Linked DNA regions of Homo sapiens: all the other regions are linked to region 1. Evidence: fine-mapped expression QTL. A gene starts in region 1. Each other region holds a variant in brackets. All regions are shown on one strand. Distances are from middle to middle.

Region 1 (7,469 bases):
TACACTACGACGTCATTTGACAAAGCTTATTGCATTAGTAACTCTCTGAGTATAGAAAAAGAAAAAGCTTGTATAATACTAGTGGAATTTTCAAAGACATTCAAATTATAGCATTGAGAACTCTCATCTTGAGTCAACTAGATACTAAGTTAGGTGTTCACTGACATAAAAGAATGTCAGAATTTTCATAGCCGGGCAGGGTGGTGCATGCCTGTAATCCCAGCTACTCAGGAGGCTGAGGCAGAGAACTGCTTGAACCCGGGAGGTGGAGGCTGCAGTGAGCCCAGATCGCACCACTGCACTCTAGCCTGGGTGACAAAGCGAGACTCCGTCTCAAAAAAGAAAAAAAAAAAAAAAAAAAGTCTGAATTTTCAAAAACCTCATCTTATAAAACTGTGAGTGACAATTCTGAGTGCCAGAGGCCTGTAATTGGTACTCATTCAAGTAACCGTCAACGTCTGTTCTACTGTTACCTTCCAATAAACAACTATGCTGGAAATTAGATCTTTCAAGACTCAAATGGTTTAAGAATTCAAGGTGTCCGCCGGGCACGCTGGCTCACGCCTGTAATCCCAGCACTTTGGGAGGCCAGGCGGGGGGATCACGAGGTCAGGAGATCGAGACCATCCTGGCCAACATGGTGAAACCCCGTCTCTACTAAAAATACAAAAATTAGCTGGGCGTGGCGGCGCGTGCCTGAAATCCCAGCTACTCAGAAGGCTGAGGCAGAAGAATCGCTTAAACCAGGGAGTCGGAGGTTGCAGTGAGCTGAGATCGCGCCACTGCACTCTAGTCTGGTGACAGAGAGAGACTCCATCTCAAAAAAAAAAAAAAAAAAGAATTCAAGATGCCAAATTTCTGATACTTGCCTACATAAATTTTATGGCTGAAATACGGAGTTACGCTAGCCTGCTTAAAAAGACTCTGTCGAAACTCGCTCCGTTTTATGGAGGAGAATTTAAATGGTATTGCCACCATTTAACTAATTTTTCCTGAACTGGTAGTGATTCTGCAGTTCTATCTGCAACTGTCACCCAGTTCTAGTCTCCTTTTAAAACATCACACATTCGTGGGGCAGTTGGCGGGGGTTATTCTGCAGCCAAATAATGTGAAGCTAACTAGAACTGAACCAATGCTCATTTGGCAAGGACACCTGAACTCTGAAGCACTTCGTAAACAGCTGATTATTTCTAGTAATACTCCTGTGAAGTTTCAGTATTGAGCCATCCACTGTATTTCATTGCCAACTATATGTCGCCTTAAAAACAAGAAAAGTGCAAGACAGTTCCCTGGTTATTTGAGTCAGAGTCTCGCTCTGTCGCCCAGGTTGGAGTGCAGTGGCACAATCTCGGCCCACTGCAACCTCCACCTCCTGGGCTCAAGCGATCCTGCCACCTCAGCCTCCCGAGTAGCTGGGACCACAGGCGGGCGCCACCACGCCAGGCTATTTTTGTATTTTTTGTAGAGACCGGGTTTCGCCATGTTGCCCAGGCTGGTCTCGAACTTCTAAGCTCAAGTGATTCGCCCGCCTCGGCCTCCCAAAGTGCTGGGATTACAGGCGTGAGCCCCGGCGCCTGGCCAGTTCCCTGGTTAAAAAAAACTCGCAAATGTAGTCCAATTCGTCTTAAGTGTAAATACCTACCACCTGGGGCAAGACCCAACTTAAAAGGGAGGGGCGCCTCACAACAGTTAACCTGGCACCAGTGATTTGGTCCGAGAATCTTAGGCTTTTAAAGCTCAAGTCCAAACCTTTATTCTACAAATAGATTTTAAATTAAGGGCTTATGGTCTGGTTATAATCGCTAACTCTTACACTGTACTATGTACTTAGTACAGTTCTAAGTGCTTTACACCTATTTACTCCTTTAATCCTCCCAAAAAACCTGAAGCCGAGTGAAGCCAAGTAGTTTGCCCAAGGTAACACAGATATCAAGTGACGAGGTTAGAATTCAAATCCAAGCAGCATAGCTTCAAAACCTAGAGTCTTAAACCACCTGACTCTACTGCTCTTCTAGGACTCAGAGTTCTAATGTGAGAAAAGAATCCTCTATAGAGCTTTCTTTCAATTCCACCATCGCAAATGAATTGCAAACCTGTGACTCAAAAGTTCTTCCTGTGTGCAACCTTAAGTAATCTGACTTTTACATCCAAAATGGGTAACCTCTCTGGAAAACTAAAAGATGCAATGGCCAGTCTGAAAAGAACTCATGCTTCCCGTTGTTAGTGGGGTTCTGTTGTGTTGTTTTTTAATTGCAACACCTGAAACGCCTTAAAACACAAGTAAACAGGCTATCAGCCATTTTCCTGAGAACAGCAAACACCTATTACACTTTCATGATGCCTAAATTGATGAATCTGAGCTAAATACAGGAACGGCTGTCTTTTTCCCAGCTGTCTCTAATATATTTGGAAGACGGTAGACTCAGTTTATGCATGTGAATGTATGTGAGAAATGAGGGGGAAGTGGAGGGTGAGGAGGGGGAAGTGGAGGGTGAGGAGGGGGAAGTGAAGGGTGAGGAGGGGGAAGTGGAGGGTGAGGAGGCTATTCACTCCTCCACCTCTCCAAAGCGGGGCGACTCAGACTCAGACCCTGCTGCTAGAACTTAAAACCAGTATCACACCATTTCTGCCTTGGCCGGCTTCAGTGCCTCTCCAGGCTGTAGGGAGGTGGCTACGTGGCGCTAAGAGGACTTCCCCCAGCCAGAGAGGAGGTGGCAGCCCCAGGTGGTGGCATCCCCTCGCCCGGGGCCCCGCGACAGGGGGCGCCAGGACTTCCCGGGGATCCCCCAGGAGGGCAAAGTCTGAAGTGGCTAGCCTGGAGCCGCAGTTGGGCCAGGGCCTGCCTAGCAGCCCCTCACAGCCTCTGCGACCACTCCTGCCAAACCAACCTCCCAGCCTAAAGGGTTAGCCGACGCGCCGGGGACGGGGCCGGGCTCCTGAGGCAAAGGCACCCAAGACGAACGCTATATTCTGTGGGACACTCACCAGGTTGAGGGGTCCTTCCATTACTTCCATAGACCCCGGGGTAAGCGGCGGCCTTAGGAAGGGGAGTAGTGGCGCCGGGGAACATGGAGGGGACTGCAAGGGAGCTCGACGCAGCCGCGGAGACTGCGGCCCCTCTCTGCGCCCCAAGAGCCAGCGATAGGCGCTGAAGGAGCAACAACCTCACCACTTCCTCCTCCGGCGCCGCGCCGCGGGCCCGCCCCCTGCGCCACCGCCGAGGCCACGCACGGCGCCATGACGTCACACGCGCAAAAGGCTGGTTCAAGGTGGGAATGAGGACAGGCAGTGGGTGGGGCCCAGGGAAGGCGGGGCACCAGCTGATGTACGCTTGCGAGCGGTCAATCTTTCCTCTCGCGAGAAGCGTTAGTTTAGGTTCTTAAAGTCTACACTGAAGTCACGTGAGGAGGTACAGCCTTGCTGTTGAAGACTTGAAATGGCTGTCTTCTGCAATTAGCTTCTCACGTTTCCTTTTAGACTGACTTTTCCTTAAATCTGCTAATCGTTACACCGTTACTTGTGGTCCTGTCCACACCTTTATCATTGTACATGATTCATTTTTTCAAAAGGCCGATTTGAGCAATTCTAGACCATGCACTGGACTAACCCCCCTAGAGGTCAGCACACTCGAATGATTTAGGGCTCTGCCCTCAAGTTGCTCACAAACTGATAGGGAAACAATTTTGGTCTAGCCAAATATAATACTGCATTCATTTAACAATTATGTGCCAAACAAAAGCTAGGTTCGTTCTGTCATGGAATTCACTGACAAATAGTTGTGATTTATGCTGGAAAGGGAACACATAGGGAGCTGTGATAGAGTAACCAAGGTGGAGTTGGGTGGTAAAGGAAAGCCTTTCATGGGGGGCGTGATTTTTTTTGAGAAAGTGTCTTGCTGACGCAATCTCCACTCACTGCAACCTCCCTCTGCCCGCCCCCTGCCCCAGGCGATCCTCACACCTCAGTCTCTTAAGTAGCTAGGAACTACAAGTGCTCAGGCCAGGTTAATTTTTGTATTTTTTGTAGAGATGGGGTTTCGCCATGTTGCCTATGCTGATCTTGAACTGCTGAGCTCAAGTGAGCTCAATGATCCGCCCTCCTGGACCTCACAAACTGATGGGATTATAGGCATGAGCTACCGCACCTGGCTAAGGGCGTAATCTTTAAGATTAAACCTTAAAATGCCAGTTAAACAAAGACCCTTCTCGACAAAGGAAATGTCTTATGCCTCAACTCTAAAGGCGGGGAGGTCGGGTGGCGGGAGCTGCAGCATTTCAGAGAGATGCAAAAGAAGATACCAGAGAGATAGGAAACTTCCAAAACATAGGTGTCCTTGCAGTGCACAATGAAACATTTGAATTTTACTCAAAGTGCATTGGGAAATAAGTAAAGGATATTAAGCTAGAGAATAATCTGCTTTAATTTACAGTTTTGAAAAGATTAATTTCCCTGTAATGTGAAGAATAGATTGTGGAAGGCCTAAGGAAAAAGAACCAAGACAAGCTAGTTGATTGACTAATTATGGGCGCTCAGACTGGAATGGAAGTAGGGAAGATTGGGTCATGCATCCACTCATTACATAGTTATCATGTTTCTACCATGTGCCGGAAACCTTGGAAGAGAAGTAGATATATTCAAGATATATTTTTGGGCATCAGGTTGAGAGGAGTTAGTGATGGAATGGCAGTAAAGCATACAGAAAATGGAAGAATCAAATCTCGTATTTAAACAACCAAGTGGCCTAGCACACTGGCTCACCCCTGTAATCCCAGCTCTTTGGGAGGTCAAGGAGAGCAGATCACTTGAGGCCAGGAGTTTGAGACTGGTCTGGCCAACGTGGTGAAACTTCATCTCTACTAAAAGCACTAAAACGTAGCCAAGTGTGGTGGCGCGTGCCTGTAATCCCAGCTACTGGGGAGACTGAGGCAGGAGAATTGCTTGAACCTGGAAGGCAGAGGTTGCAGTGAGCTGAGACCAATCACACCACTGCATTCCAGCCTGGGTGACACAGAGAGACTCTGTCTCTAAAAATAAAAAAATAAAAAAGTAAACAACCAAGTGGACAAGATAGTGAGAGACAGGACTAGCTGGATTTCCTAGGCCAACTAAGAATTCCTAAACCTAGCTGGGGAAGGTGACCACACCCACATTTAAACACAGGGCTTGTAACTCAGTTCACACCCGACTAATCAGGTAGTAAAGAGGGCTCACTAAAATACAAATTAGGCTAGAAGCAGAAGGTAAAGAAATAGTCAAATCATATATCGCCTGAGAGCACAGGGGGAGGGACAATGATCAGGATATAAACCCAGGCATTCGAGCAGGGAGTGGCAACCCCCTTTGGGTCCCCTCCCATTGTATGGGAGCTCTGTTTTCACTCTATTAAATCTTGCAACTGCACACTCTTCTGGTCCATGTTTGTTACAGCTTGAGCTGAGCTTTCACTCACCGTCCACCACCGCTGTTTGCTGCCATCACAGACCCGCCGCTGACTTCCACCCCTCTGGATCCATCAGGGTGTCCACTGTGCTCCTGATCCAGCGAGGCGCCCATTGCTGCTCCCAATCGGGCTAGAGGCTCGCCATTGTTCCTGCAAGGCTAAGTGCCCAGGGTTTGTCCTAATCGAGCTGAACACTAGTTGCTGGGTTCCACGGTTCTCTTCTGTGACCCACGGCTTCTAATAGAGCTATAACACTCACTGCATGGCCCAAGGTTCCATTCCTTGGAATCCGTGAGGCCAAGAACCCCAGGTCAGAGAACAAAAGGCTTGCCGCCATCTTGGAAGTGGCCTGCCACCATCTTGGGAGCTCTAAGAACAAAGACCCCCTGGTAACAATAGGAAGGAGCTAATTTGTATGGAAAATGAAAAGTTCTATCTTGGGCACTGTATTAATTTCCTATGACTGCTGTAAGAAGTTACTACCCATTTAGTGGATTAAAACAACAGAAATTTGGAGGCTAGCAGTTCTGGAGGCTAGAAGACCAAAATAATTTTTTTTTTTTTTTGAGACGGAGTCTCGCTCTTTCACCCAGGCTGGAGTGCAGTGGCTCGATCTTGGCTCACTGCAGGCTCCACCCCCGGGGTTCACGCCATTCTCCTGCCTCAGCCTCCCACATAGCTGGGACTACAGGCGCCTGCCACCTCGCCTGGCTAATTTTTTGTATTTTTAGTAGAGACGGGGTTTCACCGTGTTAGCCAGGATGGTCTCGATCTCCTGACCTCGTGAATCACCCTCCTCGGCCTCCCAAAGTGCTGTGATTACAGGCGTGAGCCACCATGCCCGGCCAAGACCAAAATAATTTCATAGCGCCAAAACAAAGGTATACAGCAAGGCCTTGCCCCCTTCTTTTCCAGCCTCTGGAGCTACATTCTTTGCATTCCTTTGACTCACAGCCCCTTCTTCCATCTTCAAAGCCAGCAGCACTGCATCTTCAAAGCTCTTGCTGCTTTTGTCATGTCATTTCCTCTTAAAATCCTTCTGCCTCCCTCTAGTAAGGACCCTGTGAATACATTTGGTCCACAAAATAGTTAAAGATAGTCTTCCTATCTCAAGGTTAACTTAATCATACCTACAAAGTCCCTTTGCCATATGAGGTAACATTCTCAGCTTCCACAGATTAGGACCTGGGTATCTTTCGGACCATTATTGAGACTACCAGAGGCATTGTATCTAAAGCAAATCAATGACATACTCAAAATAATCCCAGAAGGGTTTAATAAACGGACTGTTTTACAAAGGTGTGGCCAGAGTTTAGGTATTTACATGAGAAAAGCAATAACTCCTAGGCTATAAAGAAAGAAATAGAAGGGGCTGGGTACAGTGTCTCACACCTGTAATCTCAGCACTTTTGGGAGGTGGAGGCAGAGGTGGGCGGATCACTTGAGGCCAGGAGTTCAAGCCCAGCCTGGCCAACATGGCGAAACCTCATCTCTATCCAAAATACAAAAATTAGCCAGGCATGGTGGCACATGCCTATAGTCCCAGCTACTCTGGAGGTTGAGGCACGACAATAACTTGAACCTGGGAGGCAGAGGTTGCAGTGAGCTGAGGCCGCACCACTGCACTCCATCCTGGGAGATAGAGCAAGACTCTGTCTCAAAAAAAAAAAAAAAAAAAAAAAAAAGAAAGAGAAATGAATAAGAGGGAAATCTGAAATGAGGAGAAAAATGTAGAATATAGTTTGAAGAAGCACTGACCTTCAATCAAGGACACTATCCTGAGGTGACCTTGCAGGGAGGATCCAGGGAAATCACCTTATTTCCTCTTCCCCTGACTTCCATTGTCCAAACCCAATCAAAAGCCAGAAGGCAAGGGAGCCCATTGATGTAATTCATAAAAATCAGCCTCCAAGGGCAGGGAGCAGGGTAGTAAGAAGTAGAGACCGGATCTGGAAAGAGTAATACAAAATATCTGGCACATACAAATGAAAGATTTCACATCTGTTTTTGTTTGTTTGTTTGTTTTTGA
Region 2 (7,469 bases), 350 kb before region 1:
AGTGCGGTAGTGCGATCTCGGCTCACTGCAACCTCTGCCTCCTGGGTTCAAGTGATTCTCCTGCCTTAGCCTCCTGAGTAGCTGAGATTACAGGCGCCCGCCACCATGCCCAGCTAATTTTTGTACTTTTAGTAGAGACAGGGTATCGCCATTTTGGCCAGGCAGGTCTCAAACTCCTGACCTCAGGTGATCCGCCTGCCTCAGCCTCCCAAAGTGCTGGGATTACAGGCGTGAGCCACTGCGCCCGGCCTCATTTTTTACTTTTTAAATGACTAGCAACACAGTAGGTTTGTTTACCCCAGCACCACCACAAACATATGAGTAATGTGTTTTGCTAGGATGTAATGCCAGCTATGACATCATGAGGTGATAGGAATTTTTCAGCTCCAGCATAATCTTATGGGACCATCGTCCTATATGCCATCTGTCATTGACCAAAAAATGTCATGTGACACATGACTGTGATAAGGATATATCTCAATGAATTTTTAAAAACTGAACACACTCATATAAACAGCACCCAGAATAAGAAACAGCACATTACCAGCACCCTCAAGCTCCTCTCAACACCCACTGCAGGTTATCAATTTCCCTTAGCAAAATTAGGCTGTTTTATGCCATACTATAACATATCTTCAGTTGCCAAATAATGGGAAAGATAGAGTTAATCTCAGCTTACTCGTATATAAGTCATATAAAACACTATTTTTATTTTCTCTTTATTGCTGTCTTTTTAATTAAATGGATATAATGAGTGCTGAGAGCATGTCCCTGCTGTGTAGTGTCAGTAGTGTTATCTTTAAATATAGTACAGTTTTTTTTTTTTAACATTCATTTTCAACTCATTTTGAAAAGAACCTGGGCTTAATGGTTTTTCAAGAAACGTTAGGAAAGCCTTGTTGATTTTTCTTTTTCTCTAATGTATGTTTTATATTTTACCTAAGAAAAAGAAGCACCATATTTTTTTCCCACACTGGTCTTAATCTAAGAAAGGTAGCTTTAGAACATTGATATTTTAAAAATATTTACAAATACTATTTTCCCAGTTGTAGGGAGGCTCCACATGGTTAAAGTCTTCTGGTCTGATGGATCACCACTTTGTTTGAAATAAGGGCACATATTAGGAGGGCCTTCCTTTGAAGTAGAGGTATTTGCATACATAAATCTATGCCGTGACTATAAAGTACTGAGGCTGTGTGTACTTTGTGTGCAAACAGATGTCTGTAAACATATGGGCCAGTCTCTTCTCCCACCCCATTTTTTTGTAAGTCATGGCTCCTGCGTTTTGGTTCAGAAAGTGTGAATTTGGAGATTCACTCATTCTGGGGTGAATCCCAGCTCTGTCATCCACATCGTATGACCATATACACTTAACTTTCACCTCTCTGTGTCGCAGTGTCTTCATTTATGAAATTGGAATAATATACCTTTCTTAGAAGTATTACATGAGGAATAAATGAAATAACAAATGTGAACTAGCATCCTGGTTGGTTCATACAACTTCACAGTAAACGATAGTTTCTTCTCTGTCACTCAGAGTTGAAAACTGCAAAGTCTATCACATTATTCCCGATGAATGTAGTAATGTCCTAAGAGTGATCACTCATTGATGACATGTCAGCCATTTGAACATTTCAAACACAGAGGCCACTTTGTCCCCCTCATTGATCTGTCAGGCCTCTCACATACTAAATCTTTGCCTTACCCACCTTCGTGGTCTATCACCTTAACTCTGATCAGTGTCTTTTAACTTTCTTGTCCCTTTGTCTTCCCATTGATGTGCCTAGGAAATCTGCCAACCTGGATCAGTCAGTGTTTCTCAGCATCAGCACTATTGACATTTTGGATCCAAATAATTCTTTGTTCTAGAGTGCTGTCCTTGGCATTATAGGATGTTTAGCAGCATCCTAGCCTCTATCCACTGCATGCCAGTAGCAACTCTTTTCCTGCAGATTGTGACAAACAAAATTGTTTCCAGACATTGCCAAATGTCCCAAGGGGAGAAAATTGTTCACCCCAGCCCTCCTGTGTTGAGAATCACTGTCTATATGCTTTACTTGCCCCTTCATCTTTGGTCCTGATGAAAAATGACACAGGTCATTGTCACTATAAATCCATATTTTGTAATTTCAACTGGGTCCTTAATTTTGCCTGGTAGTCCTTTAATACTTCCTAGTCCATTCTCCCATTTTTCATGGGGCTATTTTAGATCTCCTTTATTCTCTTCAGACTTCCTATATCATACCTTCCTCTTATTCTTAACAGATGACCTTGTCTTCTTTTCAAACAGAAAGTAAAATAGAAGCTATTATCTTTGTCCTCCTTCAATTTTGTGATGCCAACCATGAACTTACCTAAATCTGAGTTCTGGCTTCAGCATTTAGCAAATGTTGTGACCTTTGGCAAGTTAGCTTTTAAGCCTCACTTTATTCATCCGTATCATTACTGTTAATGATAGAAATCATGTAAGGTACTTAGTGTAGCGCCTTGGCCATAGTGTCTGATGATGATAAGGGGTAGGGAATGCCACAGGTGTGGAAGGTGGTGCTATTTTATGTAAAGTGCTCAGAGAGCCCCATTTTAGGGTAATATTAGAGTAGATTTCTGAGGAAAGTGAGGAGTAAGCCATGCAGAGTTATTTGGAGTTATTTGGAGAAAGTCATGCAGTTCACTTTTCAAGAAATGTACTGTAAGTTAAGAGACAGAATGGTAACTGCAGGGTGATATGCAGTTAAGGGAGTGGGTGGGTTTGTTGTTTTTTTAGATGAGAGAGATATAAACATTTTTAATTGCCCATAGTAAGGTACCATTAGAGGAGGAAGGATTAAAGTTACAGGAAGAGATAAATTAAGCTTATTTCAATAGACTGAATTATTTCTATCCATTTTCCGTGCCACAGGTAGATTAGTTATTCTAAATGCTGATTCCTTTGCTTCCTTGCTTAAAGTCCTTAAATGCCTTCAGTTTCCTTTAGTCTAAAATACAGCTTCACAAAGTGCTTTTTACCAGGTCATGGTCAGTTGGTCCCTGCTAACATATCCACCTTCAGCTCTCAGCACTCGCTCTATCCATGCTTCTTCTGTCTCCCAATCTCCCCTGCCCCTGCTGTCCCTTAAACGTGCTAAGCTTCAGTCATACTCTAATGAATTTCTCAAACTTCCTCACATGTGGCATGCTCTCTCAAGTTTTCTGTTTTTT[GTTTTTTTTTTTTTTT/T]TTTTTTTTTTTTTTTTACAATTGCTTGAAGCCCTTTACTTTCCCCTTCTCCACGTCTTTGGCTGACTTTCATTCATTCTTCAGGCTTTGTCACGTCTATCACTTATTTTCTGACTACTTCCCTGACCCCAATCCTGGATTAGTTGCCCCTTCTGTGTGCTGCCATCCATCCATTTAATATCTTCTGTTGGACTTCTCACTTTGTGATACTAAATTATATAGGCCGTTTTATTTGTCTTGTCCCTACTGTGCTGTCAACTTGGTGGGAACAGAGGCCATATATGTCCTGTTCACTTTTGGATCCCTGTACAAGGCAACAGTACCTGGCATACAGTAGGCCCTTTGCAAGTATTTACTAAGTAAGTTAATAGATTTAATTGCTGGTTAGATAAAGGAAAATATTAGTTCATTCATATAGCACTGTTATTTAAAATTACCCTGTGCTGGATGTTGTGCCAAAGGTCCCCAGGCACTGCTTTCAAATCCCAGTCCTGGAAATGAAACATGCACAGTGATGCTTTTCCAAATATGAGTTCTCCTAACTCAAAATGGAGTAAATTTGGATTTATTTTTAATACCTCTTTGTTAATTTTGAGAATTTTATTTCTAGGATACGATGTCACTCATTATTCTACATCAAACTGTCACACATGCTTAGAAAAAAAGAAACAAAGCATTGAAGGGGAGAGGGGATCTTTTCTCTTTCTTTTCTTTTTTTTCTCCCTGCTGCTGTTTTGTCTGAATAAAGACTTGTGAGGTAGAAATGGAGACTGTAAGAAAGGCTTGCATTCTCTGAGCACAACCTGATAGCAAGGGGATTTTGAAAGAATAGGTATAGAAAGAGGAGAGCACAGTAAGTATTTCAGGAAGAGCCATAGATACTCTCATCTGTGTTTTAAAAGTTTTTCTAGTAGCGTTTCATTTCAAAAACAGACAAACAAAAAGCAATGAACACTTAGCATTTACTCTGCACTTATATGCCTGGCACTGTGCTAGTTGTTTTGAATTTTTTATTTAATCATTTTAAATATTTAATTAAATTTATAATTTAATTTATAAATAAATTATTTATTTTAATCTTTATGAGGCTAGTGTTGTTACCATCCCTTTAGTGGGTTTACATCTATTTCTGGATTTCTTTTTTTTTTAAACCCATAATGCCAAATCCTAATTCACTCCTCCAGTGAATTAGGGGAGGGGAGAGCAGCATGAACCCTAGCTTGCTCTAGTGTCCTTTGGAGCCTCTAGGGCCTTGCAGTAGTGGAATCGGGAAAACTGAGGAAAGGTGAGTGTTTCCTTCCTTCCTTTTATTCCCCCCCTCTATTTTCTATTTGAGTCTGGCCATTGTCAGAAATATGTCATTAATATCTCATAATCAAAGCTCAATAGAAATTAAATGTACAGTACTTATTATAATCAATTTTAGATAGATATATAAATTGGCATGGATAGTGCCAATTTTTTTTAAGTTAAGAGACAGTAAAACATCTATTCTTGCCTTTTTTTTTAAGTTAAGAGACAGTAAAAGTAGGGTTGTCACTGCTTTTATTGGTTTGATCATCAAGATCTTATGTTTTCAACTCCATTTTTTTAACAAAATCTCAAGTTCAGCTACAAATTATCCTATCACAAAGGCCACTATTGAAGTTCAAATAAGTGCTGTGCTTGCTCTGAAGTGGGAGGGTATAAATAGCGTGAAAAGGGATATATTTGGAAAAGTTACATACACTAGAAGTTACATACTGAAAATTATTCAATGAGGAAAGCAGTATGATCTCAAAAAATACGAAGTCCATTATGAGTTTTTGAAATGGTGGTTCTTAGGATCATTCTGGTGTTGTGAATTTTTTTATTTTTATCTGTCTGTCTTATCTATCTATCTTATCTATCTATCTATCTATCTATCTATCTATCTATCCATCCATCCATCCATCCATCCATCCATCCATCCATCCATCCATCCATCCCAAGGTGCTGGGATTACAGGAGTGAGCCACCATGCCCAGCTAGTGAATATAAACACTGCCTTTGGAAGCTTGCAATCCAGTCCTGGTTCTGTCACTTCCTATCACTGTGAAGTCATGTTCATAACTTAGGCATGTTATTCTTTCTTAGCTTCAGTTTCCTCACCTGAAAAAGTAGAGATAATATGTATTCAGATTATTGTTAGGACTAAATGATATAATTCATGCTAAATGCTTATTAGAGGCTTAGTAGTTATGACATGCTGAGAAGTATTAGTGCATTTACTGAAGTACTGTGCTAGTGATTGGCAACATAATGTGTCTGGTTTAAGATATTAAAATTTTTAATCCTAATGAAGAAAGGACAAATTAAAAATGAATCACAGTTAAAATGTATACATACATTATTGAGAAATGAATTACATTATTTTGGGTTCTGCAGAGAATCAGGTAAGTATAAAATAGATGCCAGCAGCAATATCATTTGCAAGTATAATCAAGATACTAAAATGCATTTGGGGAAGATAATCCATCTTTTTGTGAAGTTTTCAAAAAATGGCAAAAGGGGGAGGGATGGGAGAAAGTTGGTTGTTATTATAATGCTACTTTGTTATAAACAAAAATTTTCTCACAAAGTAGAGCAATTGTCATTTGACAATGTCTGGAGACACATTTGGTTGTCACATGGAGGGTGAGAGTTGGGGAGGTAGGTACTGCTGAAATCTAATGCGCAGAGGCAGGGGTGCTGCTCAGCTTCCTAAAATGCACAGAGGATAGCCTCCCCCTCCAAAACTTATGTTTCCTAAAATGTTACTAGTGCGAAGGCTAAGACTTTCTGATCTAGACTTATGCAACCGCTCACTTGGAAACTAATGTTATGGTATGTTTTGTGGTAAATACTTTGTAGAAATGTCTGGATTGTTTTAATCTATCATACTTTATCTGTAACTGACAATGGTGTTTTATCCTCTTGAAATTCTATTGGTTTTCATGGAGGAACTAAAATTAGTAAATTTCTCAGATAATTACTTGTTTTCATGATGAATAATGAACAATCCAGTTGACCAATTTTAAAGACTATTTTGATTGACATATAGTTACTTTACATTAGATTTTATAGTTATAATTTGAGATGAGTTCCTTTATGATGATAATTATTTAGACTAGAGTTATTTGGAGATTTTTCAAAATGGTCATGATTGATTAGATTAACCATACATAGTAATTACAGATTTAATTTTTCAAAAATTAGGAAGCATTTCATTGATTTCTTAAAAAAGCAAACGGGCTGTTACTGACCTTTCTTAGCAATAGTTAATTGAGTGCTTCCTTTGCTCAACTATGTTCTATGCATATATTATGTGTTCATTATGTGATCCCCACGCACAGCAGCTTCTTTATATAGGAATTATTCCCATTTCATAGATAAGAAAGCACAGAGAGATCAAGTGATTTGCATGGTAACACAGCTAGTAAATGGTGGAGCTAGGATTAGAAGTCAGGCAATGTAGCTCAAGTTTGGGGTCTCTCTCTCTCTCTTTTTTTTCTTTTTTTTGAGATGAAGTCTTGCTCTATCACCCAGGCTGGAGTGCAGTGGCGCGATGTCAGCTCACTGCTACCTTGGCCTCCTGAGTTCAAGCGATTCTCCTGCCTCAGCCTCCTGAGTAGCTAGGACTACAGGTGTATGCCACTGTGTCCAGCTAAGTTTTGTATTTTTAGTACAGACTAGGTTTCGCCATGTTGTCCAGGCTGGTCTTGAACTCCTGACTTCAGGTGATCCGCCTGCCTCAGCTTCCCAAAGTGCTGGGATTACAGGTGTCAGCCACCATGCCTGGCTCATTTGCTGTCTTAACCACAATATTATTAAAATATTATACTGACATTTAACCAAGAATGTTTAAGTACTTTCTGATTATTTACTTGTCTCTAGAACACATCAGTGAATAGTTAAGTCCTTAATGTCTTGGTAAGTTCTTGGAAACGTCTACTTAAAAAGTGAAACAATGTATAATGAAACCAATTTTTTTTTCCTCATCAATGTCGTAAGGAAATGAGGTTGATTGAAACAACTTTGGAGAACCTTCTGTACTCCTTTCATTTAGTTGCGGTTTCCAAGAACCTATCCACAACATTAAGTGGGGACTTACTATATAGCCAAAAATAAAATGAAAGGCATATAATTTTGAAATGTACTTGTAGCTTTGGAATGTACTGTACAGTGAGTTCGTCATACATCTAGATGAGGATGTAAAAGAACAAAAACTTGGAATTTCCCTCCCTCTCCATGCAGCT
Region 3 (7,469 bases), 130 kb before region 1:
TTAAATTGTAATACAGAAGCGTGGTTGACTTAAGTATATGGCCAGCTTTCCTGCTCTAAGTCAGAAACTTACAAATTTTCGCTGGATGCTCTAAAGGTTAAAATTTAATTATACTGACAAATTAATAGACATAACCTGATGTTTTACATAGAGCCACAAATTTATATTCCATTCCATCTCTGCTCTTTGATTTATTGAGTAGCCAAAGTCAGTCTCATATCATCACGTAAGTCTCCACTATGAAACGAGAAATTACTATAAGGCCTGTCAGGGTGACTCATGCCTGAAATCCCAGCACTTTAGGAAACTGAAGTGGGTGGATCGCTTAAGTTCAGGAGTTCCAGACCATTCTGGACAACATGGTGAAACCCTGTCTCTACAAAAAATACAAAGAGTTAGCTAGGCATGGTGATGCCCACCTGTAGTCCCTTCTACATGGCAGGCTGAGGTCGGAGGATCGCTCGAGCCCAGGAGCCAGAGATTGCAGTGAGCCAAGATCGCGCCACTGCACTCTAGCCTGGGCAACAGAGCAAAATCCTGTCTCAAAAAAAAAAAGAAGAGGCTGGACACAGTGGCTCACACCTGTAATCCCAGTACTTTGGGAGGCCGAGGCGGGTGGATAGCCTGAGGTCAGGAGTTTTTGAGACAAGCCTGGCCAATGTGGTGAGACCCTGTCTCTACTAAAAATACAAAAATTAGCTGGGCTTGGTGGTGCGTCCCTGTAATGCCAGCTACTTGGGAGGCTGAGGGAGGAGAATCGCTTGAACCCAGGAGGCAGAGGTTGCAGTGAGTTGAGATCATGCCACTGCGCTCCAGCCTGGGTAACAGAGCAAGACTACGTCCTCCAAAAAATAGAGAGAGAACTTACTATTAGAGCATTCTTGTCCAGTAGAAATAAAATGTGAGCTACATGTGTGATTTTAAATTGTCTTTACATCAAAATTTTAACATAGGTGTATTAATTTTACAGTATTTTATTTAACCCAATATGTCAAAATATTAGCATATCAAAATAAAATTATTCATGAGATACCTCTTAATTTTTTTTATATTCAATGTGTATTTTGTACATCACACATCTCAATTCAGATTAACTACATTTCAGGTGCTCAGTTGCTACATATGATTAGTAACTACCATATTGGACAACATCAGACAGCAGAACTCTAGAATTTAGATAGATGTTAAGAGACTATATTATATAACACATCTGAGAAATGCATTTTATGCTTTCAAATTGTATCTTAGAACTATCTAGGTTAAGTTGTTTTTTGTAATGAGTGAAAATGGTTGAGGAATATTTTCAAATCTACCAAAATAAATATTACCAGTTTTTTTTTAGTAAAATGCCTATGAGATTGTTGAGATCATTGTCTAAAAATATTTTAAATTGATTTATTTTGAAGTTTTTAATATTTTTAAGGCAAAATGGTTATACTAATAAATAAATCGTGCCCAAAAACATACAAAGTATATTTGATGCTTTATTTTTACCAACTTGAGAGATAGTCACATGTTATTTCTTTTCTGCACTTTCTCACCTTGGTAAATCTGGAAAGCAAAAACTTAGTATTTGCATTTGCTTTATGAAGGAGACAGTAAACTTGAGCTTTCAGTCTCGCCACTAGTCTGTCTTTGTCTGTTGTTAAAATTATGAGCCAGTCTCTATGGCCGCAGCCAAATGAGTAATCACTAGTAATGTGACTCGTGCTGGAAGTGACTCCATCAGCACCTGTGACGGGGGATTAGTTACAGTTTACAGAGCACCGCCTCTTCCCTTCTCTCAGTGTGCCCTAAGCCAAGTACTCGTTCTCATTTGGGTGTCTGCACTGTTGGAAGCTACTGCACTGTGTTTCCACGCAGACAGAGTACAGTGGGAAAGGCTTTCTCCAGCTGATGGATGGCTGTTCTCTTTATTTGGAGTATCTTACTGGTTATGTAAGCGACCTCGAGAGAAATTATCCTGACCCAGATCGGAGGATGCAGTAGTGCTTCAGCTGCAGGATTTCTTAGTCGTTAACACCACAGTGCTGATGACAAAGAGCGAGTTGTAATCCTCATCACTGCCAGGGCTGAGCCAGAGCAGACAGAAAATCGTCATTTGCTCGTTGGAGACTTGTTAGGTTACAGCTCCTGCTTCGTTCTGTGGTCTTGGCTTTTCTTCCTATACAATGACGCCGCTGCAAGTGAGCTCAGAAATGCTTGGTTTGAGAGCCATTTGCCTGTGATTTTTGAAGACTAAAGAAGTATTTACACTAGATACTCTTCCAGAACAAAATAGAAATTTCAGCAAATACTTACTGACCTTTAAAGCCTTGTTGTGGATTTCTGAGATTTAAAGATACTTTAAAATTCTCAAGAACAAAGTACGGTTTGTATTTTTCTGCTTCCTTTTTCTTTTGTCTTAATTTACATTTGGTTTTTCTTCTCAGCCTGAGAAATTAAGGTCACTGCCTTTTATAAAAGATCTGGCCTCAATGTTTTTAGTTTTAAGAATTTTTAACTTTCATTTGTTTAAAAAGGTTTATTGTGTTTGTAGTAATTTAATAACTGTAAATGTTAAAAAACGAGTTTAATTGTTTAAAGTATTATGGCAGAAGTGCTTCAAATTAGGATTTTCAGACTAGTGTTTCAAGGAAAGTGGGGGTATTTGTTTTGTAAGGTTTTTTTTTGGTTATTCCCTTCCCCACCCCCAACTTGTTTTCTAACAGTATCGTGTTTTTCAATAGACCTGCTTGGGTGGGAATTTGGACTTTGTTCTTTCAAGTCACTCCAGTCCTTTTTTTTTTTTTTTTTGGTAGACTAAATCTTAACTTCTAAAATGTTGCTTAGGTTGTTTTCTGCTTTAGTATTTACCTTTGGTGAGATTTATATTAGTATTTTTGCAGTTAATAAGCCTGTTTTTTTTTTTAACTTGGAATTGTTAACTGTTAACCGGAGATTGTTAGAAACTAAGACTGCAGACATAAGCTCCTTGAATTTCCTGTTAAATGTGAAATGGTGAGCTTTAACATCGTTTGTTTGAGCAGCTGAGTTGTGTTTAAGAGCTGTAGCTGATTTATTTTAAAAATGTTTTTCGGGGAGGGCTCATCTGTTCGCGTCTTCCTCATGTGAATGGAATGTGGTGCAGCATGGAGCCCCAAACAGGATACAGTTGTTCTAAGCATTCTTCCTATAGTTTGGTAGGCCCTACTAGAAATGCAGGCTCTCAACTATATTTATTTTGGCCGTAGACTATTTTTAAAAAGTATGTTTAACACTGATAAATGACCTTAAAAAAAACTCTCACTCTAATAAAATTGAAAAAGCATTTTGTTTCAACTGAACATTTAGTGTTAGTAATTTTCATTTTGGTTTTCAAAGGCTTTTTAGAGCATTTGAATGATAGTCTTTTGTGATTAGGGCCATATTCTACTGTGACTTTCATCAGATGTTAGCTCATTGCTTCCCTTTAGGCTGTGGAAGTTACTCATAGAATGATATATCTTTAGAGTGTTGAATTAGTTATGCATGAGTTCTAGTTTCTTTACATTCCAGTGCACCTAGACCCATGAACTATTTACTACAAATTTCATCATACCAGCTGTAGGACCCATTTGTTTTTATTTAAATATGTTTTTTATTATTTTTAAACTTATAATGTTCCTTTGAAATGTACTAGACTAATACAAAAATTAGCAATACTTAACATGGTTGTTTTGCCAGTTAAAAAAACCGGGGTGTATTTTAATATCACTTCATATGTTGTTTGCCTTTCATTTTTCCTTAAAGTAGAGCAGTCACACATATTCACTGTTTCTCATTTAATAAATATTGAAACATTTCTTTTAACAAATACTATAAAAGTATTTATCAGCACTTTTTATTTGCTATTTAAGAAGCATGATATACTTTGGACTTCCACTTGTAAATGATTATAAGTACTCATGT[C/G]CTTGTAAGAGTATTCAAATTTGATCATTGTCAGCTAGTTTTCTTAGATTTCTGGTAGCCAAATTTTACTTGGCTTTCAATGAGACATCTTAAAACGTGAGAATTTTTTTAGCTTAGAAATCCTTTTTTCAAATTAACTTAGAATAATTTAAATCATTGGTCGGCTTGTTGAAATTTACCCTTAGAACTCTGGCCTACCTTGAAAAGGAGAGCTCTCTTCAGAAGAATGTTTTTCATATTATAAAATGACTAGGTCTCATAGGAAATGCAAGCCACCTGTATTATTTGCGTAAGAAAGAGGCACTCCAGAAGGAGAACTTTACTTCTTTTTCAAATCCTACTTAATTGAATTGTATCTTTAGCCACTTAGATAATACCTTTTGTGGACCTTTTTGTTAACCTTCATGAGTTGACCTGATATGGTACTGTTTGAAAAGAAATAGATCATTTGATAATGTTCAAGGATTAAAAGTCCTCTTGAGAAGATGCCAGTGTTTTCTAGTTTACTTAAAAACTAAACTGACAGAGATATAATATGAAAAAACATTTTTTACAGTAGGGATCAGCCGAATATCCCTGTTTATGTTACATATTTCATGTCAATTGGTCACGTAGTGGTGGACACTTTTAAAGCCTAAATACAATAAATGCTCTTGAATTTCTTACAAACTTTTTGTCACTTAAGTAAAATAATAAATAGGATTTTATGAAATCCTATAGGATTTTATGTAATTGAAAAGTGTTAAATGATAACAGTAGAAGGAAATAGCTAAATAATGTGAGGATTTTCTATTTTGAAAATGTGATTTCTCACCCAAATAATAGTAATTTTGATAAATAATAGAGTGCTTAAAAGGTTAGCCTAGGATATGGGAGAGAGGATATTACTGTGACTAGATTTTCTGATCTTAAATATCGAAAATAAGTGAGAATATAAGAGAGTTTTTCCTGTTTTTTAATTAAGAAAATATTATTTGTAACTTCATGATGTAGATAGCATAGAAATAAGACTTGCTTAAATTTAATATTAAATTTTTAACTTTGAAACATTGTTACAGATTGCAGTGAGTCAACCTGAAATTCCTCTTAGGAATTTCTTAAATATAGAAATTAACTCCTTAAAAGCCACTCCAAACCAAACATCTTGAAGTTTTTCCCTGGAGTATGTTTATTGTTATTAACAAAATGTTATATATTTTTTAAGACAGAATAAGAGAAAGGGGAAACACAATGATTTTGAAATGCCTGGTAATTTGTACTGTCTATGCCAAAATCTTTGTTTTGTGTGGAAATATTAACACAAATTACCCTGTAGCTAGAAAGATTTCTCCATGTGATATAGGTAACTTAGAAATTGAGTTGATTATTAATTCTGTTTTCCGAACTTTTTTCCAGTTAAAAAATTTTTTTATAGTAAAGCAGCTGTGTTTTTAAAATGGTGGAATTTTGTTTTCATTTTCAAGTTTTTAGAACAGTACCATGAATATAAGACACTTGTATTTTATTTAATCTTCATCTACTTTGAAAGTGAGTGTGATAGTCATAAAGAAATTTATACATTGTATCCCTGTTTCCTTCCTCTTCCTACCCTGGCTCTGTCCCTGTCATCCCCACCCAAGATACGAGTTAAATCTCATATGTTAAAGGTATCTTCTTAAAGGAATCAAATGACCTTGGATTGACTTTTTTTAAAAGAAGTAGTGGAGATTTGGACTTGACTGCAAAGTAGAGTTTTGTGTAGTACTTCTTACCGGACTCTCTCTACTCCCTTCCTCCATGCTTCTCTCACCGAAGCTGCGGGATTTTTATCTGTGCTTGGTGCAGGGGCGGGGGTGGGAGTGCAAGGGGTGGAGTTAAAAGACCAGATACTTCCTGATCATTTAAAATCCTGCTTAATGTGAATGAGCTAGACAAAAAGTGTACATTGAAATAATAACTACTCTCTTTAATAAGAAATAATACAGTTAAAAAAAAAAGGTGGGGGTAAATAGCTCTACAACCCAGTTTACTGTTTCAAAAGCAATTTCTCTTTTTAAGCAGACATTTTTACACACATGCATATTTTATTACATCCCTTTTTAAAAGTAAACAGTTGGGACTTAGTATACTCAAATATGCCCATATCACATGTAGATCTAGTTTGTTTCTTTTAAATAAACACAGATACCTTATGGTGTAGATAAAAGCATTAGTTTATAATATGAAAATTAATATTAGGTACCCTAAGACTCTGTAGTGATAATGACATTGATACATTGTATTGGTGTGTGTTCCTTCATAATTTCAGGATACTACCCAGAAAATTATCATTAGAAATTTTTTTTTTCTTGGCAGACTTTCAAACCTCTGGTTGAAAGAAATATACCCAGTTCAGTCACTGCAGTAGAATTCCTTGTAGATAAGCAACTGGATTTTTTAACTGAAGATAGTGCCTTTCAGCCCTACCAGGTAAGAAATTTTAGATTACTTTTTAAAATTAAAGGTTAATTAAACTTTATTGATATTCAGACATTCTTTAAACAATATTCTTTAAATATCATTTCATCTAACTTCTAGTTGTGTGAAAAACCCAATGAATGCAGTCAGTTGATTTTGCTTATAGGATAAACGATTTATTAATTCAATTAACAATATATACTGAGAACCTACTATGAGCCAGGCAGTGTTCTGTTGCAAGGAATACAGAAGTAAACAAAATAAAGTATCTGACATTCTAAATAATCATTATTAGAAAATAATTGGTTAAATATTAGTATAAATTGTCTTCAATGCTAAACGTTAAGAATTGGGTAAATTAATATAATTAAATGAGATTAGTGTTTATGTATACCTATCAGTTTAGCATAATAGTTCTTTTTTTAAAGGGGAAATTTTTTTAGATTGTCAGTAATTGAATGATTTTATATATAAATTTCAGTTCTCCATTATTGCAATTTAAATACAAATACATTTAATTAGGAAAACATTTTCCAGTTGACTATTAGCTTTTAATTATGTGAAGAAACTCATCAAAAGTATTAAGCTAAATATTTTTTAAGATTGTTGAAATTACCAGTTAATTTTTTCAGGTATAAGTAAAGCTCACAGAATTGTGTGTGTGTGTGTGTGTGTGTGTGTGTGTGTGTGTGTGTGTGTGTGTATGTGTATTTTTTTTTTTTTTTTTTTCCGTGATGGAGTCTCACTCTTTCACCCAGGCTGGAATGCAGTGGCACGTTCTTGGTTCACTGCAACTTCCGCCTCCTGGGTTCAAGCAATGCTCCTGCCTCAGCCTCCAGAGCAGCTGGGATGACAGGCACACACCACCACGCCCAGCTAATTTTTGTATTTTTAATAGAGATGGGGTTTCACAATGTTGGCCAGACTGGTCTCGAACTCCTGACCTCAAGTGGTCTGCCCGCCTCGGCCTCCCAAAGTGCTGGGATTACAGGCGTGAGCCACCACACCTGGCCTTCATTTGTATATTTAGAGTTTAGGTTGAATTAAATGGATATATTATAGATTTCTTTTTACTCAGATGTTTTAAAATAATACAGTAATTG
Region 4 (7,469 bases), 200 kb before region 1:
ACTGCTCTCCAGTTTCTCTAACAACTTGACTTTCTGTGATATAAACATAAATGCCTTCTCTCTTTTTAATAACCGTTACCCGTAGGAATATCTGAAGGACTTTTTGACATTTTCAATAGTATCTTTACACCACAGAGCAGAGAATAAGTAAAAAAACAAAAAACCACACACACACAGTGAGCAATGCACATAGGTCTTGGCTCCATGTGGAGCCTGCCATTGTCATGTCCTGCCTGTGTATGTGCCATTTTGGCCAACTTTATGTGCACACATGTGTGGGGTAATCTGGGCGTATTCAGAAAAGATATATTGCAGCTAAAGGGGGCTGAGAGGGTCTTTTTTTCCCTCAGGGTTGCTGAATAAACTGTGTGTTTGTATGCCTGCATTTTGTCTGTGAATTGTCACATGAGGTCAGGTGTGGAAATTCCCACATGTGGTGTCATTTTGGTGCTCAGACATCAGATTTTCAGATTAGGGATGCCCAACCTATATATGTGTAATTTACTTATTATTTATTTATTGAAATGAAGTCTCACTCTGTCACCCAGGCTGGAGTGCAGTGGCGCTATCTCAGCTCACTGCAACCTCCGCCTCCTGGGTTCAAGCATTTCTCCTGCCTCAGCCTCTCAAGTAGCTGGGACTACAGGGACTACAGGTGCATGCCTGTAATGAGAATTTCAGCTGAAGGATAATTAGAACAGTTGTCAAGGAGTAAAAAAATCTTGCAGTCATCATTCAGTCCAGCTTCTCCGCAGTGAACCTGAGCTACTGGTACAAAATGTTTGTGAGACCACATCCGGCTAATTTTTGTATTTTTAGTAGAGACGTGGTTTCACTATGTTGTCCAGGCTGGTCTTAAACTCCTGACCTCAAGTGATCCACCTGCCTTGACCTCCCAAAGTGCTGGGATTATAGGCGTGAGCCACTGCGCCTGGCCTACATTTAATTTTTTTTTTTAAATTAGAGATGGTGGTCTCACTATGTTGCCCAGGCTGGTCTTGAACTCCCTGACTCAAGGGATCCTCCCATCCCTGCCTCTGAAAGTGCTGGTATTACAGGCGTGAGCCAGCACACCTGGCCTCAACCTATATACTTAATGTATTTCTTGTTTTTGCATCTACTCTAGTCATTATCTCAGCCTGCAATGTGTTTTGTTCATTCCTCCACCATTTTCTCATACCGTGTATATGCAAGTGTTATTTTTTCAAGGTTTAGTTGAAGCTCTATTTTTTTTGTCACCCTCACTTTTCTTGATCTTATGTCTAAGAATGAGAAATGGTTTAAAGAAAAATACAGGATATAGCTAGTATATAATTGCTTACAGCACTGTTTCCTAAGATGTCTGTATTTGCCTTAGTGCAGCAAGTCTCTTCAGTGAATCTCTTATTTTGCTCCTTTACATTGGTGTATACAGTACCATCTTCTCCCTGTTGGGCTGGCTAGATCTGTTAGGCAGGTGGTAAAGTGGTATCTACCAGCTTGTAGAATGGTAATAGAAATATATTTTTTGTTTTTTTACCATAAACAAGGGGCCTCTTGGGATGAAGAAAACATATTTGCTCATTCTCACATCTTCATAAAGTGAAACAATAATCTTTCATACTACACAAGATGAAGAATTAAACTAAAGGCTGGGTGCAGTGGCTCACGACACCTGTAATCCCAGCACTTTGGGAGGCTGAGGCGGGTGGATCACCTGAGGTTGAGAGTTCAAGACCAGCCAGACCAACATGGAGTAAACCCTGTCTCTACTAAAAACAGAAAGTTAACTGGGCATGGTGGCACATGCCTGTAATCCCAGCTACTTGGGAGGCTGAGGTAGGAGGATCGCTTGAACCCAGGAGGCAGAGGTTGCGGTGAGCTGAGATTGCACCATTGCACTCAAGTCTGGGTAACAAGAGCGAAACTCTATCTCAAAAAAAAAAAAAAAAAAAAAAAAATCTAAGGAGCAGAAAGATATTTGATTATTCAAAATGTTTAAAGTTTGTAGTGGCTAATGTAGCATGTGTAGTCAGCCCTTAAGCTTCCTTGAAATGATGCCACTATATCTAGGTCTATCTTAGCGGTGCCTACTTAAATTTTATCTGAAAAGTTTCAAAAACAGCCAGGCAACAACAACAAAACAAATCATTAAGATCCAAATCAAGGGCTGAGAATGGTGGCTCATGCCTGTAATCCCAGTACTTTGGGAGGCTGAGATGGAATAATTTCTTGAGGCTAAGAGTTCAAGAGCAACCTGGGCAACATGGTGAAACTCCATCTTATAAGAATTTTTTAAATAAGCTGGGCATGGTGGTGCACATTTGTAGTCCCAGCTACTTGGGAGGCTGAGGCAGGAGGATGGCTTGAGCCCAGGAGCTTGAGGCTGCAGTGAGATCTGATTGCACCAGTGCACTCCAGCCTGAGTGACAAAGTGAGACTCTGTCTCTTAAAACTGATGATATTCAGATTTACTCTAAAGAGCTCCAGATAAACTCTTTAGAAATAGTATTTCTGTTTATTTATGTTGGTCTTTTACCGCTGTGAAAAGAAAACTTGGGTTAGTGGTCAGCTGACATGGGTTTTACTCTCAGCTTTCTTTATGAAGATTATGAGCTTGTATGTTATTTAACCTCTTATAGTTTTACTTGCCACATCTTCATCTTGAGATTCTTATGGTGATTAAGACAATGAATATGAAGTGGTTTTAGTTTACAATTTTAAATTATCAAATACTTTGCGAAGAGATTTCTTACTATAGTAATAACAACAGAATGTCACTAAATATACCTTACCTCTGGGAGAAAAGGGCATGAGAGCATGATCACACATCTTCTGGCTCATCAGCTTGCTCTTCCTCAAGTGGTAGGAAGAATGAGGGAATCTGTAATCTATATGAGGCTTCCCCAAGGAACAGGACTGCCACTGTTAGTGGATTACTGTGAGGAACAATAGCGGATTTTTTTTCTTTTCTTTTTCTTTTCTTTTCTTTT[C/TC]TTTTCTTTTCTTTTCTTTTCTTTTCTTTTCTTTTCTTTTCTTTTCTTTTCTTTTCTTGTCCTCTCCTCCCCTCCCCTCCCTTCCCCTCCCTTCTCCTCCCTTCTCTTTTCTCTTCTTTCTCCTTCCCTCTCTCTCTCCCTCCCCCCCCCCCGCCTTCTCTTTCTTTCTGACGGAGGCTCACTCTGTCACCCAGGTTAGAGTACAGTGGCAAGACCTCGGCTCACTGCAAGGTTTGCCTCCCAGTTTCAAGCAATTCTCCTGCCTCAGCCTCCCGAGTAGCTGGTACTACAGGCGTGTGCCACCACGCCCGGCTAATTTTTATATTTTCAGTAGACATGGGGTTTCACCATATTGACCAGGCTGGTCTCAAGTGCCCAGTCTCAGTGGTGCCCGTGCCGGTCTCAATGGTGGAGTTTCTATGATTTTACAAAGCATTTCTTAACTTGGAAGTTAAGAGGGCTAGAGTTGGCCAGGCATGGTGGCTCACACCTGTAATCCCAGCACTTTGGGAGGCCAAGGTGGACGGATCACCTGAGGTCAGGAGCTTGAGACGAGCCTGGCCAACATGGTGAAACCCCCTCTCTACTAAAAATACAAAAATTAGCTGATTGTGGTGGCGGGCACCTGTAATCTCAGCTACTTGGGAGGCTGAGGCAGGAGAATCGCTTGAACACAGAAGGCGGAGGTTGCAGTGAGCCAAAATCACGCAACTGCACTCCAGGGGCAACAGAGCAAGTCTCTGTCTTAAAAAACAAACAAAAAAAGAGGGCTAGAGTTGAATGCAGTGGGCACTAATTAGGAATTAGCTTTTCCTGGCTCACACTCTGTTTATTTGCATTCTTCTATAAGGGAAAATGACAAGTTGATATCGGATTGTCAGGGTTTTCTAATATAGGATTTGTGTGAAACCAAGCAGCCATAACACCTTGATGATGTCATTGAGACAGATGGTGAGTGCTGACCCTTTATAATATTTGTCCTTTGTTTTTTAGATTAACTATCTCATTCTTCTTTTTTATTTATTCTATAGATTTTAAAGTATCCTAGGAAATAGCTTTAGGGATCGTGATGTGGAAACTAATGGAAAATTAAATGTATTATTAGGATTGAAATCTGGGTAAGTAGTTTTATTTATTTATTATTATTTTTTGAGACAGAGTCTTGCTCTGTCGCCCAGGCTGGAGTTCAGTAGTGCAATCTTGGCCCACTGCAACCTCTGCCTCCTGGGTTCAAGCAGTTCTCCTGCGTCAGCCTCCCAAGTAGCTGGGATTACAGGCACATCCCACCATGTCCAGCTAATTGTATTTTTGGTTGAGACGGGGATTCACCATGTTGGCCAGGCTGGTCTCGAACTCCTGACCTCAGGTGATCCTCCTGCCTTCGGCCTCCCAAAGTGCTGAGATTACATGGTTAATACAATTTTAAGGGTGGTATTAGATATTTGTGTTTCATAGACGTGGTTTTTTTCTTTTTTTCTTATTTTTTTTGAGACAGGGTCTCACTCTGTCACTCAGGCTGGAGTGCAGTGGTGCGATCTCCGCTCACCGCAGCCTCCGCCTGCGAGGTTTAAGTGATTCTCCTGCCTCAGCCTCCCGAGTAGCTGGGACTACAGGCACAAGCTACCTCGCCTGGCTAATTTTTGTATTTTAAGTAGAGATGGGTTTTCACCATGTTGCCCAGGCTGTTCTTGAACTCCTGACCTCAGGTGATCTGTCTGTGTTGGCCTCCCAAAGTGCTGGGATTACAGGCGTGAGCCACGGTGCCCAGCCAAAGTGTTTTTTTTTTAGGAAAATATTATGCCAGGCGCCGTGGTTCATGCCTGTAATCTCAACACTTCGGGAGGCCGAGGCAGGCAGATCACTTGATGTCAGGAGTTCAAGAACAGTCTGGCCAACATGGTGAAACCCCGTCTGTACTAAAAATACAGAAATTAGCTGTTGCAGTGGCAGGTGCCTGTAATCCTAGCTACTTGGGAGGCTGAGGCAGGAGAATGGCTTGAACCCTGGAGGCGGAGCTTGCGGTGAGCCGGGATTGTGCCACTGCACTCCAGCCTGGGCGTCAGAGTAAGACTTTGTCTCATAACAAAACAAAAAAACAAGTATGATGGTTCAGATTGCACATTGCAGTGAAAATGCCAACTTTTAAGGGGAATTATATTTGGAATCAATTTTCTTTTTAACTGAATATTAAATGGAATATTTAGCTTTTTAACTGGAATATTAAGCACTTCTTTATATTCTCAACATATGGTAGTGCAGAGGTCTTTTTTTGCATTGCTTTGCCCCCATGCCTACATTATCACCATTTTTAAACAGGGTATCCAGGTTGTTTGTCTTACAGCTTTCATTGTTCAGGTTGAAGCAACATTCTCTGATAACAACATTCAGAGGCACTTTGACAGACTGCTGTGTCTGACCTGGAACAACAATCTCTGATAGCAACATTCAGAGGCACTTTGTCAGACTGCTTTGTCTGACCTTATTACCTGTGAGGTAGTGTCTCCATTTTTCTGGGTCAGTTCTTTTTTGTGAAGGACTGGAACTCCTTAGTTAGGAACAATATTTTTTTTTTTTTTTATTTTTTTCCAAAGACAGAGTCTTGGCTGGGCATGGTGGCTCACGCCTGTAATCCCAGCACTTTGAGAGGCAGAGGCGGGAGGATCACCTGAGGTCAGGAGTTCAAGAACAGCCTGGCCAACATGGTGAAACCCTGTCTTTACTAAGAATACAAAAATTAGCCGGATGTGGTGATGCGCACCTGTAGTCCCACTACTTGGGAGGCTGAGGCCTGAGAGTCGTTTGAACCCGGGAGGTGGAGGTTGCAGTAAGCTGAGATCACGCCACCCCTCCAACCTGGGTGACAGAGCGAGTTTGAGTCTGTGTCTCAAAAGACACAGTCTCATTCTGTTGCCCAGGCTGGGGGGCATTGGCACAATCTCAGCTCGCTGCAACCTCCACCTCTTGGGCTCAGGTGATCTTCCCAACTCAGCCTCCCGAGTAGCTGGGACTATAGCACATACCACCACGCCTGGCTAATTTTTGAATTTTTTGTAGAGACAGGGTTTCACCATGTTGCTCAGGCGGGTCTTGAACTCCTAAGCTCAAGCTATTCACCTGCCTAGACCTCCCAAAGTATTTGGTGGAACAAGATTTAACAACAAAATAGATAATTTTTTAAAACTCCAAAATCTCTGTAGTGTATTCCTGACATATAGAAGTATAGATCATATTCATCTGTGTTCATTAGTATTTTAATGAACATTAAGGTGGTATGATTTGATTTATTAAATGAAATCCAAATTACATGTCTTTTCCCTAATGTAAAAAGAGTTACATCAGTCATTTAAAATTGAACACAAATTTATATTCGGAAGAAAACAGAAAAAACCATGTCCTCTGTCTCCTTTATTCATCAAAACTTGTGATTCTAATCACATTTAACAGTACTGAAAAAGTGGTACATGCTGAAGAATAATGGAGTATGTCTACCACCTCTTCTTGGGTCAGCATCTAATGTATTTTGTGACAAGCCTTGTGTCAGTACAGTCTCTGAAGGTTATTTAGGAGTGCAGTGAATCACTTCTGTTACTTACTTTCTTTTTATCAGTATACCAAATAGCCTCTGATTCTAATACATTATTTTTTTTAATTGATCTGCTTTGTGTTTTCATTTTGGTATTTGGATTTAGAAAACTGTCTATAGATACAGATATTTTGCTGGAAAAATTGTATTTAAATATTCAAAATTTAACTAAGAAATTATATCAAGGTGAAATGACCCTTATGTTTCATTTGCAAGGATTGTAAAAGTCTCTGACAATTTTAAGTGCTCAAATGAAGAGATAGTGTAGAAGCCTTTTCTTCGTTTTTTTACAGAAGAATAATTATGTGGGCAATGCTCCTAGGTTTCTGCCTCATAATTGTCATGTAGATTACAATTAAATTAGAAGTTTTTGCAGAGCAGTGAGTGAGTTTACCACAAGATGGTAACATTTTATTCAGATTCATGCTTTGGGAGACATTTATGGTCAGTAATAGTGTTTTGCCTTTCTTTCTCTCTCTTTTTTCTTTTTTTTGAGATAGGGTCTCACTTTATTGTCCAGGCTGGAGTGCAGTCGTTGCAGCCTCAACCTCGTAGGCCAAGCCCTTCACCTGCTCCAGTCCCCTAAGTCATTGGGACCACAGCCACCATGGCTGGCTAATTTTTCTTATTTTTTGTAGAGAGGAGGTTGCGCCCTGTTGCCTGAGCTGTTCTCCAACTCCTAAGTTCAAGGGCTCCTCTTGCCTTGGCCTCCCTAAGTGCTGGAATTACAAGTGTGAGCCACCACACCCAGCCCTGCCTTTCTCATACGCAAGAAATAGGAGAATGGATATTGTTTTTCTTAAGAAGCTGTATTATGTGATTTGTTTTAAAAATTTTGTATCATGCCTTTTAAAGGTCAACAGTTTTTCATTTGTAGATAGAAAAATGCTAAGAATCTATTAATTTTGTATATT

Evidence for each region. PIP is the estimated chance that this variant, and not a neighbour inherited with it, causes the effect.
Region 2: its variant is fine-mapped to the expression of NRBF2 in whole blood (INTERVAL, PIP above 0.99).
Region 3: its variant is fine-mapped to the expression of NRBF2 in whole blood (INTERVAL, PIP above 0.99).
Region 4: its variant is fine-mapped to the expression of NRBF2 in whole blood (INTERVAL, PIP above 0.99).

What each region holds. Positions count from the first base shown.
Region 1 is chr10:63,129,017-63,136,485 of GRCh38, reverse strand. NRBF2 (nuclear receptor binding factor 2) reads right to left here and starts at 3,158. Exons shown (of 4, transcript NM_030759.5): 1 at 2,986-3,158. The coding sequence starts at 3,015. RefSeq lists silencers at 2,612-2,881, 3,092-3,341.
Region 2 is chr10:63,481,899-63,489,367 of GRCh38, reverse strand. It overlaps a transcript of JMJD1C not described here. Among named protein-coding and RNA genes, the nearest start is that of JMJD1C, 20 kb to the right of the region's middle. The variant GTTTTTTTTTTTTTTT/T (reference allele first, on the strand shown) is at 3,199.
Region 3 is chr10:63,263,560-63,271,028 of GRCh38, reverse strand. It overlaps JMJD1C (jumonji domain containing 1C), which reads left to right. Exons shown (of 26, transcript NM_032776.3): 3 at 6,265-6,378. Among named protein-coding and RNA genes, the nearest start is that of MIR1296, 110 kb to the left of the region's middle. RefSeq lists enhancers at 110-610, 611-1,111, 1,427-1,950, 1,951-2,476. The variant C/G (reference allele first, on the strand shown) is at 3,931.
Region 4 is chr10:63,333,112-63,340,580 of GRCh38, reverse strand. All of the region lies in intron 2 of JMJD1C (jumonji domain containing 1C), which reads left to right. Among named protein-coding and RNA genes, the nearest start is that of MIR1296, 36 kb to the left of the region's middle. The variant C/TC (reference allele first, on the strand shown) is at 2,973.